Homo sapiens: one gene and its partner. The protein of the gene in region 2 purifies or fractionates together with the protein of the main gene of each other region. This does not show direct contact. Each region holds a gene or a part of one and is shown on either strand. Other genes may lie near its edges. The genes, in order: NFS1 and EEF1AKMT1.

The links.
Region 1: the proteins of EEF1AKMT1 (region 2) and NFS1 purify together in Homo sapiens (affinity purification with mass spectrometry; one large-scale study listed by BioGRID and IntAct). This does not show direct contact.

The regions. Positions count from the first base shown.
Region 1 is NC_000020.11:35,689,056-35,692,875, reverse strand, and holds part of NFS1 (cysteine desulfurase isoform a precursor), read left to right. Parts: intron 1-505; exon of another isoform or gene 506-627; intron 628-2,310; coding exon 2,311-2,463; intron 2,464-3,820.
Region 2 is NC_000013.11:20,763,880-20,767,699, forward strand, and holds part of EEF1AKMT1 (EEF1A lysine methyltransferase 1), read right to left. Parts: intron 1-3,820. UniProt on the Homo sapiens protein: Protein N-lysine methyltransferase that selectively catalyzes the trimethylation of EEF1A at 'Lys-79'.

The DNA of each region.
Region 1 (3,820 bases), on a different chromosome or scaffold from region 2:
AGCCTGCTACCACACCCAGCTAATTTTTGTATTTTTAGTAGAGACGGGGTTTCGCCATGTTGACTAGGCTGGTCTCAAACTTCTGACCTCAGGTGATCCACCTGCCTCAGTCTCCCAAAGTGCTGGGATTACAGGTGTGAACCACTGCTCCTGGCCCATTTTTTTTTCTTTTTTCTGTTTTTTGAGACAGAGTCTTGATCTCACCTAGGCTGGAGTGCAGTAGCCAGATCTCAGCTCACTGCAGCCTTGACCTCCTTGGCTCAGGTGATCCTCCTGAGTAGCTGGGACTACAGATGTGTACCACCACGCCAGGCTAATTTTTTTTTTTTTTTTTTTTTTTTTTTTTTTAGTATAGATGATGTTGCTCAGGCTGGTCTTGAACTCCTGAGCTCAAGCGATCCTCCTGCCTTAGTCTCCCAAAGTGGTGGGATTATAGGCATTAGCCACCACCACATCCAGCCCCCTTTTTTTTTTTTAATTAATTAATTTATTTATTTATTTTGAGATGGAGTCTCACCCTGTCGCCCAGGCTAGAGTGTAGGGGCATGATCTCGGCTCACTGCAACCTCTGCCTCCCAGGTTCAAGCGATTCTCCTGCCTCATCCTCCTGAGTAGCCGGGATTACAGGTGCGTGCCACCACACCTCGCTAATTTTTGTATTTTTATTTTTATTTATTTATTTATTTTTTGAGACAGAGTTTTGCTCTTGTTGCCCAGGCTGAAGTGCAATGGCGTGACCTCGGCTCACTGCAGCCTCCAACTCCTGGGTTCAAGCGATTCTCCTGCCTCAGCCTCCAGAGTATCTGGGATTACAGGCATGTACTACCACGCCTGGCTAATTTTTGTATTTTTTTTAGTAGAGACGGAGTTTTTCCATGTTGGTCAGGCTGGTCTTGAACTCCCGACCTTAGGTGACCCTCCCTTCTCGGCCTCCCAAAGTGTTGGAATTACAGGTGTGAGCCACCGCGCCTGGCCATTTTTGTATTTTTAGTAGAGATGGGGTTCCACCATGTTCGTCAGGCTGGTCTCAAACTCCTGACCTCGTGATCCACCTGCCTGAGCCTCCCAAAGTGGAGGGATTACAGGCATGAGCCACTGCACCTGGCGTTCTTTTTTTTTTTTTTTTTTTTTTTTTTTGAGATGCAGTCTCGCTCTGTTGCCCAGGCTGGAGTGCAATAGCACTCTTGGCTCACTGCAACCTCTGCCTCCTGATTTCAAGTGATTCCCCTCCCTCAGCCTCCTGAGTAGTTGGGATTACAGGTGCGTGCCACCGGGCCTGGCTTATTTTTTAATTTTTAGTAGAGATGGGGTTTCCCCATGTTGGCCAGGCTGGTCTCAAACTCCTGACCTTAGATGATCCACCTGCCTCGGCCTCCCAAAGTGCTCGGATTACAGTCGTGAGGCACTGCACCTGGCCGCTTTTTTTTTTTCTTCAATGAGATAAATGTTTTTTTTAGTTTCTTGTAATAGTTGAAATTCCAGGAATTTTTAAATGTACCTTTATTGTTTCTTGTGATATTAACAGTAATACCTACTCATGACTTGTTTACTGTTATATCACTGGCACCTAGAAAATTACTTGGGATACTGGAGGTGCTAAATATTGGTTAAATGAATGAATCATAAATTCCAATAATATAGAGTAGAACTCTAAACACATTTTCACTGCTAATTTGCTGTATATTTCTCCAGATTTTTAAATACCTACATTAATCTGTATACTATTATTATTTTAATAGATTTTATTTTTTATAGCAGTTTTAGGTTCACAGCAAAATTGAAAGGAAGGTATAGAAATTTCCTATATATGCCCTGCCCCCAGGTATGCACAGCCTTCTGCCATTATTAGCATCCTCCATCAAGTGGTACATTTGTTGCAATTGATGACCTGATATTGATACATCATTATCACCCAAAGTCCATAGCTTATATTAGGATTCACTGGTGTTGTACATTCTATGGGTTTGGACAAATGTGATTTATTCTAGTGAATTATTGAACTTGACCGGGCTTCGGGAAGCCCTGAATTTGTATTTGACTGGGCAGAAGTATGGGTAGCTTGAGACCCCTGGGACTTATGTCTGGTATCTGAACTAGGGGCAGTCTTGTACGATTGAGCCCTTAACCCATGGGGTTTTCACTAAGTCTGGAGAGTTAGCCTCAGAATTGAATTATAGGATACTCAGTTGGTATGAGAGAACTGGTGTTGGAGCATACTGTTCTTGCCCACTTTTCCTTTACAAATGAGATTGAAGTCATTGCTGTCTCTCTGAGTATGTTCTCCTTCCATCTGTCACCACCAATTTCTAGGGGGTGGCCCGATTCTACAGGTCACGGAAAAAGCACTTGATCACCACCCAGACAGAACACAAATGTGTCTTGGACTCCTGCCGTTCACTGGAAGCTGAGGGCTTTCAGGTCACCTACCTCCCAGTGCAGAAGAGTGGGATCATTGACCTAAAGGTAGGAGTGGCTATTGGCAGGAGGAGCAAAAATGGAGGAGCCTGGCTTCAGCTTGTAAATTTCTCTCTTGGGCCCTAGCTGGAGCTTGAAGGAATAGATCTAACAGTTAGGATGAAGTTTAGAGAAATAAGCCTGGCAGAGAACGAGATCATGTTCCCCTTGAGTGTGTACTGTCCTCCTTTTCTCTGGAGGACTTGTTTCTTTTTCTTTTTTTTGAGATGGAGTCTCACTCTTTTGCCCAGGCTAGAGTGCAGTGGCTTGATCTCAGCTCTCTGCAACCTCTGGAGGACTTGTTACTTCTTTTTTTTATTTTGAGACAGAGTTTGGCTCTTATAACTCAGGCTGGAATGCAGTGGCGCGATCTCGGCTCACTGCAACCTCCGCCTCCTGGGTTCTAATGATTCTCCTGCCTCACCCTCCCGAGTAGCTGGGATTACAGACGCATGCCACCAGGCCCAGTTAATTTTTTTTTTTTTTTTTTTTGAGGCAGAGTCTCATTCTGTCACCTAGGCAGGAGTGCAGTGGCACTCCACTGCAACCTCCACCTCCCGGGTTCAAGTGATTCTCCTGCCTCAGCCTCCTGAGTAGCTGGGACTACAGGCACGTGCCACCACACCTGGCTAATTTTTTTTTTTTTTTTTTTTAAAACAGAGTCTCGCTGTATTGCCAGGCTGGAGTGCAGTGGCGCGATCTTGGCTCACTGCAACCTCTGCCTCCCGGGTTCAAGCGACTCCCCTGCCTCGGCCTCCCAAGTAGCTGGGATTACAGGCATGCACCACCACGCCTTGCTAGTGTTTTTTTGTATTTTAGTAGAGACGGGGTTTCACCATGTTAGCCAGGATGGTCTCTATCTCCTGACCTCGTGATCCACCCACTTCGGCCTCCCAAAGTGCTGGGATTACAGGCGTGAGCCACCGTGCCCGGCCACACTTGGCTAATTTTTTATATTTTTAGTAGAGATGGGGTTTCACCATATTGGCCAGGCTGGTCTCGAACTCCTGACCTCGTGATCCACCTGCCTCGGCCTCCCAAAGTGCTGGGATTACAGGCATGAGCCGCCATGCCTGGCTCTAATTTTTGTATTTTTAGTAGAGACAGAGTTTCACCATGTTGGTCAGGCTGGTCTTGACCTTTTGACCTCAGGTGATCCACCCATCTCGGACTCCCAGAGTGCTGGGATTACAGGCATGAGCCACTGTACCTGGCCTGGAGGACATGTTTCTTGCATTTGTTGGTGTTTTCTGGTTTGTATGGGAGCCACTGGCCACATGTGCAGGATGCCAGGGACTCACATTCACCATGGCAAAGCTCTGGCCTCCTCCTTCCCTGCACTGATGCTTCTCATCCTGCTAAAGAA
Region 2 (3,820 bases):
ATCTAAGTTGTTAAAATTTATCTGGATAGAGATGTTTATAGCAGTCCTCAATTATTTCTAATGTCTTTAGGATCTGTACTGATATCCCCCATTTCATTCCTAATGTCAGTAATTTCTGTTTTCTCTTTTTTCTTACTAAAGGTTCATCAATTTTATTGATCTCTTTTAAAAAATAAGTTTTTGCATCATTGACTTTATTTTCAATTTCATTGATTTCTGCCTTTCATTTCCTTCCTTCTACTTGCTTTGCATTTGTTTTAAACTACCTTTTTGTTCTGGGAGTTTAGAACACTGTTTTGAGACCTTTCTTCTAATTTAAGTGTTCAGTGCTTTAAATTCCCTTTTAGCAACATCCCAGCAAATTTTTGTCCTTTTTCACCCATTTTCATTCAGTTCAGTGTACTTTTAAATTTCTCTCTGGCCCATATATTTAGAAGGACACTGTTTAATTTCCAAGTGTTTGGAGATTTTCCTATTAGGTTTTCTAGCATGTATAATTTCAACACTTTTTAAAAATGCTGAAGTTTGTGTAATAGCTATGGATATGGTCTATGTTGGTGAAATATTCCATGAATACTTGAAAACAATGTGTATTTTGATGTTGTTGGGTGAAGGTTATATAAATGTGAATAGATCCTTTTGGTTAATGGTGTTATTAAGTCCCCTGTATCCTTGCTGGTTTCCCATCTAGTAGTTCTATCGATTGCTGAGAGGGAATGGAAGTACCCAGCTGTAATTGTGGATTTGTCTGTTTCCTTTCAGTTCTATCAGTTTTTATTTCATGCTTCATGTAATTTAAATTGTTCTCGTTTGGTGCGTACATACTTAGAACTGTTGTTTGTTCTTGATGAATTCACTCTTTTTATCATTATGTAATTCTGTTGTTGTTCCTAGTGACTTCTTTACTCTTATAAGTCTACTTTACCTGCTATCAATAAAAGTGCTCATGCTTTTAAAAAAAAGCTTCTATGGCATATATTTTCCCCTTCCTTTCACTTTCAACACACACACACACACACACACACACACACACACACACCCTAATTTTGAAGTGAGTTTCTTGTGGGCAGCATATAGTTTTCGTCTAAAAAAAAAATCCTGGCCAGGCACAGTGGCTCACGCCTGTTATCCCAGCACTTTGAGAGGCTGAGGCGGGTGGATCACGAGGTCAGGAGTTTGAGACCAGCCTGGTCAACATAACGAAACCCCGTCTCTACTAAAAATACAAAAAACTAGCCGGGCATGGTGGAGGGCACCTGTAATCCCAGCTACTCGGGAGGCTGAGGCAGGAAAATCGCTTGAACCCGGGAGGCAGAGGTTACAGTGAGCGAGATCGTGCCACTGCACTCCAGCCCAGGCAACAGTGCAAGACTCCAACTCGAAAATAAAATAAAATAAAAATAAAAACTAAATCCTTACTGATAAGCTCCTTTATTGGTGCATCTGGACCTTTTACACTTAATGTTATTATTGATATATTGTGCTTAAGCCTATTTCATTATTTGCTTTCTGTTTCTTCCCTTGGGTTTTTTTTTTTTTTTTTTTTTTTTTGAGATAGAGTTTCACTCTTTCGCCCAGGCTGGAGTGCAGTGGTGCAATCTCAGCTCACTGCAACCTCCGCCTTCTAGTTTCACACGATTCCCCTGCCTCAGCCTCCCCAGTGGCTGCGATTACAAGCGCCGGCCACCACACCTGGCTATTTTTTGTATCTTTTAGTAGAGATGGGATTCACCATGTTGGCCAGGCTGGTCTCGAACTCCTGACCTCGTGATCCACCTGCCTTGGGCTCCCAAAGTGCTGGGATTACAGGCATGAGCCACTGCGTCTGGCCTCTTCTCTTGGTTTTAATTCTTGTTTCCTTTTCTAGCTTTCATATATGTTTCTTGAATTTTTTTTTTTTTAGAATTCTTTTATACCAAAAGACAAAATAGGAAAAACATTTCAACAGGCACTTTATAAAAGATGACATACAGATAATCAAACATCATATGACAAGGTATTCAACCTTGTCATGAGGGAATGCAAATTATAATCATAATGAGATACCACTATACACCTACCAGATTGACCGCAATTAAGAAGTCTAACATCAAGTAGGCATATATGAAAAGATGCTCAAAATAGAAATATGCAATAGAGGCTGGGCGTGGTGGCTCAAACCTGTAATCCCAGCACTTTGGGAGGCCAAGGTGGGCAGATCATGAGGTTAGGAGTTCAAGACCAGCCTGGCCAACATGGTGAAACCCCATCTCTACTAAAAATACAAAAAAATTAGCTGGGCATGTTGGCACTGCCTGTAATCTCAGCTATTTAGGAGGCTGAGGCAGGAGAATCACTTGAACCTGGGAGGAGGAGGTTGCAGTGGGCAGAGATCACAACACTGCACTCCAGCCTGGGTGACACAGTGAGACTCCATCTCAAAAAAAAAAAAAAAAAGAAAGAAAGAAAAGAAAAAGAAAAAAAGAAACATGTAATAGAAAAAATTAAACTCAACTGAAATGTCCAACCATTAGACAGTATATAATGTTGTATATTCCTACAGTATAAATATATTCACTACATAGCAGTGAAAACATTTTATGAATCTATTTCTTTCTCCATTGCTAGCTTACTAGCTGTGACTCTGTTATTTAAGAGGTTGCTTAAGAATTATGGTACATGGCTGGGTGCGGTGGCTCACGTCTGTAATCCCAGCACTTTGGGAGGCCAAGGCAGGTGGATCACCTGAAGTCAGGAGTTTGAGACTAGCCTGACCAATATGGTGAAATCCTGTCTCAACTAAAAATACAAAAATTAGCCAGGTGTGATGGCAGGCGCCTGTAGTCCCAGCTACTCAGGAGGCTGAGACAAGAGAATTGCTTGAACCTATGAGGCAGAGGTTGCAGCGAGCCAAGATCACACCACTGCACTCCAGCCTGGGCGACAGAGCAAGACTCCATCTCAAAAAAAACAAAAAAAGAAAAAGAAAAAAACAGAAGCTTAGAATAGTATACATAAATCCATTTCTCTTCTCCAAACCTTTGTGTTATTGTTGTCATACATTTTACTTTTACATTTGTTATAAATGCCACACTACATTGTTAAATTAAAAACTCATACATATATTTAACTCCTCATTCTGTTGTATAGATATTTCCAGATGGTGGGCCAGGCGCGGTGACTCACACCTGTAATCCCAGCACTTTGGGAGGCTGAGGTGGGCGGATCACGAGGTCAGGAGATCGAGACCATCCTGGCTAACACGGTGAAACCCCGTCTCCACTAAAAATACAAAAAATTAGCCGGGCGTTGTGGCAAGCACCTGTAGTCCCAGCTACTCGGGAGGCTGAGGCAGGAGAATGGCATGAACCCGGGAGGCGGAGCTTGCAGCGAGCCTAGATCTTGCCACTGCACTCCTGCCTGGGCGACAAAGCGAGATTCTGTCTCAAAAAAAAAAAAAAAAAAAAAAAAAAGATATTTCCAGCTGGTGTCATTTTCCTTCTGCTTGAATGACTTCGTTGAACATTCCTTGTAGTATAATTCTGCTGGTGATGCATTCTCTCAGCTTTTGTTTCTGATAATGTCTGTTTAACTGTGGGTATAGAATTTGAGGTTGACAAGTTTTCTTTTGGTATTTTAAAGATAGTCCTCCACTGTCTGTTCACTGCATTGTTTCCACACATAAAATCTGCTGTAATTCTTATTTTTCTTCATGTCTTTCTTTTCTAATGGTTTTTAAGGTTTTTCTCTTTATTACTGGTTTTGGGTATTTGATTATGATGTGCCTTGGTGTGGTTTTTTACACGTTTCTTGTATTTTGTGTTTATTGAGCTTCTTAAAT